2 separate regions of the Homo sapiens genome follow, and region 2 is linked to region 1. Evidence: fine-mapped expression QTL. A gene starts in region 1. The other region holds a variant in brackets. All regions are shown on one strand. Distances are from middle to middle. Region 1 holds the start of IL10RA (interleukin 10 receptor subunit alpha). Region 2 overlaps SMIM35 (small integral membrane protein 35).

The links. PIP is the estimated chance that this variant, and not a neighbour inherited with it, causes the effect. A credible set is the group of variants that fine-mapping cannot tell apart.
Region 2: its variant is the best candidate, but not a certain one, in a credible set for the expression of IL10RA in whole blood (TOPMed, PIP 0.52).

Annotation. Positions count from the first base shown.
Region 1 is chr11:117,982,976-117,988,350 of GRCh38, reverse strand. It overlaps IL10RA (interleukin 10 receptor subunit alpha), which reads right to left and starts at 1,957. Exons shown (of 7, transcript NM_001558.4): 1 at 1,817-1,957. The coding sequence starts at 1,883. RefSeq lists enhancers at 780-1,079, 2,470-2,529 and silencers at 1,880-2,159, 2,180-2,279.
Region 2 is chr11:118,040,680-118,046,054 of GRCh38, reverse strand. All of the region lies in intron 1 of SMIM35 (small integral membrane protein 35), which reads left to right. Among named protein-coding and RNA genes, the nearest start is that of TMPRSS4, 34 kb to the left of the region's middle. The variant C/T (reference allele first, on the strand shown) is at 2,220.

The sequences.
Region 1 (5,375 bases):
GAGGGGGGGCAGGCATTGATGACCCCAATTTTACCAAAGAAGAAAGGGAGGTTCAGAGAGGCTATGACTCGCCCGAGGCCAGCGGAGCCCGTAAGGGGCAGAGTGGGCACATGAATCCACATGTGTCTGATTCTAGAGCTAGTGTGTCTCCCTAAATCACTGCCCTGTGCTCTCTGTGATCAGAAGCTGCAGTGGGGGCTGAGAAGAGCCAAGCTGAGTCTGATGCCTACCAGGGAAGAAGGCAGGGGCCGAGGGCTAAGCAAGTTGGCAATGAGCTCTCAGATGTGTTAGTCCCTGGCTCTGCCCAATCCCTGTCCCTGCTCTAGCACTATTCCTAGGCTTGGCCCCATCCACACACCTGATCCCCACCCTGGCTTGGCCCAGGCTCCAGCTCAAAGCCACCTCACTAAGTACACAGACAGCCTGCTTGCTGACATCTGCCTCCTTCTCTTCATAGGTCTCCTGGGCTCCCCAAGCTAAGTGCTTGCCTCATTCCCTAGTTTCTGGGAGGGCTTTGCCTATAGCCAGATGTCCAACCTCTGGCTGGGCAAGGACAGATGGAATAAATCAGCTCTGGCTCTACACATGGCTGAGGACATCCCCACAAGAGCTGGCACCTGTAGCTCCGAGGAGAGATACTCAATACCAATTCCTAGCTCTACTCTCCCTTTACCCCCAGTACACACCATTCACCATGGGAAACACTGCTGAAGGCATTGTCTTCTTTGTAAGAATGCAACAAACATTTCTACTTTAAGAGTCTTGTTGATCAAGCAGACTGAAGTATGTGCAAGGCCAACGGCTGGTTGGTTCCCTTTCTCTCCTCCTTGATCCTCTAAGTTCTCTCCATTTGACAGCGACTCTGCTCCCGCTCCCTAGTGTTCTAACTTCTCTACATCTCTCTAATCATGCACCTGTTTTTTATTTATTTTTTGGGGGGGAGGACTCTGTCATCTGTCTCTTGCTTTCTTTCTTATACCGTCTTTGATCTTCACGTCAGTGCCTTGATTTCGAAACATTAGACGGAAAGTGAAAAATGCAGCGAGTCGTTGTGGTATTTGGGCTGCACATCTCCGACTCAGCTCTCGATCACGTGAATGGCTGACTGCATGTTTTACTTTGTATTTTGGTGTCATGAAGAAGCAGTTTCGGTCCTTGCTCTCTGTCTCTGCTCTTGGTCCTTCCAACTCCCGGCTCTTTCATTCTGTCTCTGGGGTTTACTTTTCTTAGTTGCAGAAACCTTGCCGGAGAACTGTCTGGGTTAGGAGCCTGAACTGGGTTAGAAGCCTGAACTGGCTGGGTTAGGAGGAGAGAGGCAGGGGGCAGTGGGAGTGAGTTGGGGGCTACAGGTGGAGCAAGGGGGATCAGATCGGGGTGATCAGTGAGGGATGAAGGTGAGATGGGAGAAGGACAGACAGAGGTTAGTTGAAGAGTCGACTAAGAGAAGGGAGAGTCAGGAGATCAAAATTATTCCCCAAGGGGACAAGAAGTCCCATCATTTGAACCTAAACAGCAAAAAACCTAGAGCTAAACTTACGGCTCATCTAGAAGTGGGTGGATGATGAGGTTTGCGGGTTGGGGGTTTGGCCTTGCGCATACTTCTCTATCCTTCCCAATCCGTCAGTTCCTGTCAATTTCAGCCTCTTCCACTTCCACAACAGGTGAGCCTGAGATCCAGGTTTGCCAGAGTAAGGGAGCACCCGGGCACCGCTCTGCCAGAGGGCCAGCCAGCCAGGGCTCTCCACTGGATGGAGAACTTTAATGGAGCGGGCGCGGAGAGGGCAGGGCAGGGAAGGGCCGCGTCCCGGAGCCTTACCATGAGCGTCTGAGCCAAGACGGAGGCTGAGGAGCGCCGCCAGCAGCACTACGAGGCACGGCAGCATCCTGGGCGCGCCGCATCGTCCGGGGCCGGAGCGGAGCCGGCCTGCGCGCCTCCAGCTACCCTTGGGCTGGGACTGACAGCTCCGCCGCCCGCTCCGCCAGCGCCCCGCAGGGCTGACGTCAGCGGGGCGAGGCCTACAGACGCCCCGCCCCCGAGGCCGCGGACGGGGAACCACTGTCCCACAGGGCTACCGCCTGGGGCAACCCGAGGCTGTCCTGGGGCGCTAGCGGGCTCCGGCCACCCCTCCCTTTCCTTCCCTCTGGGCCTCCAGTGCCTTCGGATCAAAGTGGTCCGGGTAGCCCGGCCGGCCGTGGGTACGTGTGTGTGGGTGTGTGCGCGCGCGCGTGTGTGCATGTGCTGGGAAGCAGGTGGCCAGGCACAGCCTCGGCCCTGAGTGCGGAAGGTGGGGTGAGGGCGTCCGAGCCGCTTTTGCCTGGCGTGCCGGCTTGGCGTTAAGGATGTGGCCGCGGCCGCTCCGAATGGGGAGGAGGTAGTTGCAGGCCCTTGAGGGCAAAGGCGCCAGGACGCCGGTGTGAGTCTTGGCGTTGCCCCAGGGCCTCCCCGTCTGGGGGTCTGAGGACACCGATGGATGAATACTGAGTAGTCCCCTACCTAATTGTTGGAGGGGGGTCCACAACTAAGCAGTTTATGCAGACCTGCCCCCAAAGTCCCAGGAAGCTGAGAGACCCAAGAAAGAGGCTTTTAACCAGCAGCTCAGCAGCTGAGCCTCAAACCGCGATTTTTAAAATTTTTTTATCTATTTTTTTTTTTTACAGTCTCGCTCTGTCGCCCAAGCTGGAATGCAGTGGCGTGATCTCGGATCACTGCAACCTTCGTCTCCCAGGTTCAAGCGATTCTCCTGCCTCAGCCTTCCGAGTAGCTGGCATTACAGGCATGTGCCACCACGCCTGGGCTAATTTTTGTATTTTTAGTAGAGACGGGGTTTCACCATGTTGGCCAGGCTGGTCTCGAACTCCTGACCTCAGGTGATCCACCCGCCTCAGCCTCCCAAAGTGCTGGGATTACAGGGGTGAGCCACCGCGCCCAGCCTTAAACCGTGTTTTAAACTTAGTTTCTCTTCTTTCCTTTTTTCTCTTCCTCCTCTGGGCCTCAAGATATAATTTTGAGACAAACTGCATGTATGTTACCTCTCATCTTAAAACACAGCCTCAGGACGTGCTGTGACCTCCACTCCCTTTCCTGTCCCATACTGTACTCCCATGCCTTACGCACGTTTATTTACCTACGTGCTTGTTAAGCACACGCTATGCTCTTACCTGGTCATATATTTCCTTAGATGCCTCAGGAGCTGCGTCCTGATAGGGACCAGGCACCTCCGGAATTCTCTCTCCAACAAAAGCTTACTTCAGGAGTTGAACATATACCCTGCTGAAGAGTAACTAATTTATAACCTGGCAGGATCCACGATTGCACCAGCCCCTCCACCAAATAAGACGATAATTAAAGAGGACCACTGGAGCAAGTCACACCACCTGGTACCTCCTAACCTCCCCCTTGCCTTTTCTGCATTTCAGATCCTTTCTTAAAAAACCCCTGCGTTCCCCCCATGAATTGAAGAGTGGAATTGTTTGCTGCTCTTCCCCTGCTAGCATGGCAGCTAGCAGATTTTCCTTTATTATCCATTCTTTCTACAAGCAGAGAGCAGCCAGATCCTTTTGCAGGTTACAGGCTGACACATCCAGTTTCTTCGAAAAAAACATTTAATAAGGACTTATAAACAGAAGCTACGTTTGTGTCTCCATGATTCACCCCCAGGACCAGGGCTTATAGACCACAGGGGAAGGGTGATTCAGAAAAGATGTGTAGGACAGTTGAAGTATGATAACATCAAGGTTGTTTGACCTAAGGGCCGGATTTACAGTAAGTGTTTGCACTTACACAAGGAGCAATTGATAAATTGGGAATCTCAGAGGTCTTCTGGGAGGCTCCAAAGCCAACACGGCCAAAACTGTGGATTAGCATCCAACATGGAGTTGCTTTAGCCTCCATAAGGACTTCTCCCAGTCTCTTCTGGGTTTCCCTTGCTTGCTTGAAATCTGATATTCAGACCAATTTTTGTGTTGGGTAATAGCACTACTGGAGTGCTGGGTAACACCTCAGCACATCCTCAGTCTCTCGCACCTCTGTGTCACTTGGCTCATCTGAGGCCATCTCCAGGTGAACCAAATATGTGAGGATATGAGAGACAGACTGTCCATCACTTTTTCTTGGAGGCTGACACCTGCTTCAAAGTGTGTGTGTGTGTGTGTGTGTGTGTGTGTGTGTGTGTGTGCACTTGCAGTCATATATGATTTGCAGTGGCCAGTCTGTGGATTTGGATTTCATTGTGGTGTGGAGAACGTTGTCTGTTTGCCAAGTGCATATGTGTGTTTGGGACTGTGTGTGCATCCCTCAAGCCCTGCCCTTGTTCTCAGACAAACCAAAGAAGAGGGGCTCAGGACATTTCTGGCCAGCAAGGCCCCACTCCAGGCCTGCTGCCCCACCCACCCGGCCATACCCCGCCCTGCCTGTATTGTAGTTTGTACCTTCATTTGTTCCTGAGCTCTTGTCCTGTGTTCAAGAAGAATGAGAATTCGCTGACAGTTGAAGGGTGAGGATGGGCAGAGAATAATTTTATTGAGTGATGGACCAGCTCTCAGCAGAGAGGGGATGGGGAGGGGGGTGGTTCCCCGCTCCCACAGTTGGGTGTTTTTTTTTCTCAGTGTGGCTGGATCCAGGGCTTTTTCTGGACTCAGAATAGGGAGTGCATGCCGATTGGTTTGTGAGTATGCAAAAAAGGTTAAAGTGAAAATACCACTCAAAGGTGGGTACGACAGTGTAGAAAACCAATTAGGAAAGGGTAGGTGTATGTAAAGTAGGTGAAGGGTGGGGATCAATCAGAGGAAAGCGTGCCAAATGGGAAGACAGGTTCTCAATCTGGTCTGAAGATTTAACTTGCAGCTTGGCTTTCAGGTTTTAAGTTGTCTTCAACTTGGAGGTGGGGTTTCACCAGGGACCCGCCCTATCTGCCTAGGCATTTGACTGCCTCCTGTAACTATCACCTGCTCCTGGGAGGTTTCCCTGGCAGTGCCCAATGCCCACATGGAGGGCCTTATTTACTGCAGCTTTTGAGAAAGGGCCCCTAACTTAGGTGTGTGACACCAGCACTGTGCGTGGTCTAGGAGTTAGTGAGGCATTATCCCCATGGTTTGTGGAGATATAAACCCTATTTCAATATTTTCAGAGCGGAAATCTCTCTGCCCAGTGGCCTGGACTGAAAGTGTGCCAGGTTGGCTGGGGGTGGGAGTTGGGAGATCCCATCCTGTATCTAAGAGTCTACATTGGGACTAGAAAGACCTCACTCTTGACGATAGTCAGCGAAGGCAGGGGTGCCTCAGCTACATGGATGGGGGAGAGTGATATCTGCAGGCCTACCAGGACACATCATCAGCCTGGGCCACCCTCAGGAGACAGCTCTTGTTGCCACACCCCC
Region 2 (5,375 bases), 58 kb before region 1:
ATAACTTATTGAATATCTACCATGTGTCAGGAGCCATATAACTCTCCTTTCACATACACGTCTCACTTAATCTTCACGTTAACCTTGTGAAGTTAATATTTTAATCCCCATTTCAACATAAGAGAGGATTAAAACTCAATCTTGCCCAGAGTAATGATATTTTAGCTTCCAGATGGCCTGGCTCCAAGTCTTTTTCCGTCATCACACACTGCTAAAGCAAATATCCCGATGGTCAAGAGTTAAAAAGATCTGCCTGAAATCTGCTGTCTGTTCATTCATTATACTGGGTTGAAAGATTCAGAGCTGTACATTATCAGAGAGAGAGTGAAGGTAAAGTTTAGAGAGCAGTAAACAAACCAATGGGTCTAGTTTCAAACAGGAGATACTTGATTTTTTATTGTTATGTGATTGGTTTGTTTTCTTCAGCAATATTATTCATCACACAAATATTTCTATTGCAAAAGATGAAAATCATGTGAAATTGATGATACCTGTTTTTGACCTTTAAAAATGACAATTTTATATGGTTCAAGCTAATACTAAGGCAAAACTTGAAAGGCTCTTTTTACTTCTACTCCCTACCCCACTCCCCTGGTTCTTCATAAACCCTATCATCACCTGCTTTACACCTGCCCTGACTTGCCTTAATCATAGGGAGAACCGCAACTTGGTGACAGCCTTTCTCTCTCTCTAGTGTGTGTGTGTGTGTGTGTGTGTGTGTGTGCATGTGTGTATACCATAACTAGAATTATGTGATATCTATTCTTCTGCAACTTGAACTGATCTTTAAAACGTGGAATTGATGAGCAACAGATGAGCAACAAAGGAGGAATTCTTGATTCCAGCTGGAGAAAAGTGTAGGCTCCATAAAACCTGATGTATTGAGGGTGAGGGGGCCTAGAAGCCAATGGAGATGAAAATGTTCCATTTTTCTTGCCAAACCTGGACCTTGGGCAATATCATCTCCACATCTGCCTCCACCATTGATCCTAATAGTAAAGCCTAGGGCCTCCCACTAGGGTCTGTTGTACTTAGGTTTTGAGTTTTAGAACTTCCTTCTGATTTTGTTTGATGTGTTGCTAATCTTCCAGGGGGTTGTGCTGCTTGCTTCTTCATTTTTTGTTTTGTTTTGTTTTAAAGTTCCTTGTCAGTATAATCTAAAAGCTAGAGATGTCCAATCACCTGCTGGAGGTTTCTTCTAAGTGATCAAACTAGGAGGTTTTTTGTTTGTTTGTTTGTTTTGTTTTTTTTTTAGTAGAATGAACTTTTTTTTTTTTTTTTTGGAGATGGAGTCTCACTCTTGCCCAGGCTAAAGTACAGTGGTGCAGTCTCGGCTCACTGCAACCTCTGCCTCATGGGTTCAAGCAACTCTCCTGCCTCAGCCTCCGGAGTAGCTGGAATTACAGGTGCCCGCCACCACGCCTGGCTAATTTTTGTATTTTTAGTAAAGACAGGGTTTCACTGACCTCAAGTGATCTGCCCACCCTCAGCCTCCCAAAATGCTGGGATTACAGGCATGAATCACCGCACCCATCCTAGAAGGAACTTTAAATGGGAGTTGGAGGGGCATCTGGAGAGAAATCATGATTTAGATGGGCGGTGGGATGACCATTTGCAAGATCTCCTGGCTTTAGGTCAGTTCATCCAAATGGCTTGGTAAATAGTAAGGTGCATAATGCCACCATTACCTTCATGCTGCTTGGCACGTACTCACGGCTGCATTTTTTTTTTTTTTTTTTCAATTCTGCCAGACTTCTCAGTGACTAAGATTTGGTTTCTGGAATATGAGTAGATGGATAGATAAGTACAATTAGGGTAGATTCTTACCTAAGTGTAAGGATCTTGATACCTCTGCTTTTTGCATGGGTTTTGAGTGTTACATATCTGCAGGAAACCTGGATTATAGAAAATGCATTTCAATGCACTTCTTCAAGTTTAAGGATTTAGGAACTCCTTCTCTCCAGGGGATAATTTAGACAGAGATAAATATAGGTTGGCATTTTATCGCTTTTTTAACAGCTTTGTTTAGATATAATTCACATAACATACAATTCTCCCATTAGAAGTATATAATTTAATGTTTTTAATATATTCATGCATATCTGCAGCCACCATTACAGTCAATTTTAGAACATTTTCATCGCCTAAAAAAAAAACCCATACCCTTTAGCTAAGATAACCCCCTCCTTTTCTCCCCACTTCCCCTGGCCCCCCCATAA[C/T]CTACTTTCTTTTTCTTTTCCTTTTTTTTTTTTGAGATGGAGTTTCTCTCTGTCGCCCAGGCTGGAATGCAGTGGTGCGATCTTGGCTCACTCCACCTCCCGGGTTCAAGCGATTCTCCTGCCTCAGCCTCCCGAGTAGCTGGGACTACAGGCGCCCACCACCACGCCCAGTTAATTTTTTGTATTTTTAGTAGAGACAGGGTGTCACTGTGTTAGCCAGGGTGGTCTTGAAATCCTGACCTCGTGTTCGGCCCGCCTCAGCCTCCCAAAGTGCTGGAATTACAGGTGTGAGTCACTGCGCCCAGCCTCTACTTTCTTTCTCTATAGATTTTCCTCTATAGATTTTCTGGATATTTTGTATAAATAGAATCATATAATATGTGGACTTCTGTGACTGGCTTTTTTCACTTAGCATAATGTTTTTGAGGTTCATTCAAGTGGCATGTATCAATACTTCATTTCTTTATATGACCGAATATTCTGTTATATGGATATACCACATTCTGTTTATACATTTGTCTGTGGATTCCTTAAGATTTTCTTTAAAAAAAAAAAAATGTTTTACCAAATACCCAGACTTCAAGGAGGAGGATTTTCCATATGTAAGACTGTGTTATCTGTGAACAGAGATATTTTCATTTCTTCCTTTCCAATCTGGATACCTTCTATTGCTTTTTCTTGACTATTTCCCTGGCTAGAACCTCCAGTACAATGTTGAACAGAAGTGGTGAGACCAGACATCTTCGTCGTGTTACTGATCCTAGGAAGAAAACATCTGCCTTTTACCATTTAGCATGATTGCTGTGGGTTTCTCATAAAGGCTCTTTGTCAGGTTGAGGAAGTTCTCTTCTGTTCCTAGTTTGTTGAGTGTTTTTATCATGAAAGAGTGTTTGATTTTGTCAAATGCTTTTTTTGCATCTATTGAGATCATCATGTGATTTAAAAAATTCTACTGGTACGATGTGTTACAAGAATTGATTTTCAGATGCTGAACTAATCTTGCTCTCGAGGGAGAAATCCAGCTTGGTTATGATGTATACTTATTTTTAGATACTGCTGGAATTGGTTTGCTAGTATTTTGTTGAGGATTCTTTATTCTTTTTCCACATACAATCATTCCTAATTGTTGAGGATTTTTGCGTCCATATTCATAAGAGATATTTTTTCTCTGGTTTTCTTTTCTTGTGATGTCCTTGTCTGGTTTTGACATCAGGGTAATATTTGCCTTATAAAATGAGTTGGGAAGTGTTTAGCCTCTTCTATTTTTTGGAAGAGTTTGTGAATAACTGATATTAATTCTTCTTTAAATGTTTGGCAGAATCAGTGGGAAAGCTAATTAGGCTTGGGTTTTTCTTGTGGGTATTATTTTTTATTGCTAGTTCAGCCTCTTTATTTGTTATACTTATTCAGATCATCTGTTTCTTCTTGAGTCAGTTTTGGTGGTTTGTGTATTTCTAGGAATCTGTCTATTTCATCTAAGTTATCTATTTTGTTGGTGTACAACTGTTCATTGTATTTCTTATTATGTTTGTTTCTGTAACGTTGACAACAATGTCCCCTCTTTCATTTCTGATTCTAGTAATTTGAGTCTTTTTTTTTCTTGGTTAACTTAGCTAAAGGTTTGTCAGTTTTGTTGATCTTATGCCAATTTTTTGTTTGTTAGTGTTCTCTATTGTTTATTTTCTATTTTATTAGTTTCCACTCTAAGCTTTATTTCCTTTCTTCTGCTTGCTGTAGTTGAGTTTGTCTTTCTTTCTCTCTCTCTCTTTTTTTTTTTTTTCATTTGTGACAGAGTCTCACTCTGTTGCCCAGGCTGGAGAGCAGTGGTGCAATCTTGGCTCACTGCAACCTCCACCTCCCAGGTTCAAGCTATTCTCCTGCTTCAGCCTCCCGAGTAGCTAGGATTACAGGCATCTGCCACCATGCCCAGCTAATTTTTGTATTTTTAGTAGGGACAGGGTTTCACCATGTTGGCCAGGCTGGTCTTGAACTCCCAACCTCAAGTGATCCACCGACTTCGGCCTCCCAAAGTGCTGGGGTTACAGGCATGATCCACTGTGCCCGGCCTGTGTTTCTTTCTCTAGCGTCTTAGAAGATTAACTGGAAGATTAGGCCATTGATGTGAGATCTTCCTTCATTCCTAAAGTAGGCATTTACAAATATAAATTTTTCTCTGATCATTGCATCCCACAAGTTTTGGTGTACCGGGTCTTTATTTTCATTCATCTCCAAGTTTTTTAAATTTCCCTTTTGATTTATTCCTTGATCCATTGGTTATAGGTCGTATTTAGGAGTGTGTTGTTTAATTTCCACATATTTGTAGAATTATTCCCATTTATTTTGCTATTGATTTCTAATTTTATTTCATTGTGGTCAGAGAATATACTTTGTATTATTTTTATTCTTTAAATTTTATTGAGGTTTGTTTTACGGCTTGGCATATGGTCTATCCAGGGGATGTTTTATGTACACTTGAATGCATATTTTGTTGTTGAGTGGAGTGTTTTACAGATGTCTGTTAGGTGTAGTTGGTCCGTAGTGTTGTTCAAATCTTCTATTTCCTTGATCTTCTATTGAGTTATTCTATCCAATATTAAAAGTGGAATTTTGAAGCTTTCACTTATTATTGTTGAGTTTTCTATTTCTCCCTTCATTTCTGCCAGTTTTTGCTTCATGTATTTTGATGCTTAATGTTTTAATTATTTTTTCACTATTTTTAAGTGGTTACTCTAGGATTTACCATGTACATCTTAGCTTACCAGAGGTCACTTCAGATAGCTTAATACCAGTGATGTATAGAAATATTACTCCTATGTAGCTCTAGTCTCTTCTCCTCTTTTGTGTATTATTGTTATATATGGTATACATTATATATTATTATATTATGCAATATATTTTTGTTATACATATGTCACATCTATTAATGTTACAAACTCAGCAATATATTGTTATAATTATTAGTTTATCAACTACAGTCATGTCCTTTGCTTATACTGCTTTGCTCCCATCCACCCCTTAGTGCTATTATTAACAAAAATATTACATTTGTATATGTTATAGGCCTAACCTTACATTATGTATTTTACATATATATAATTTTGTATGATTGCTTTTTAAATCAGTTATGAGGACAGAAATATGCACTTATACATTAAA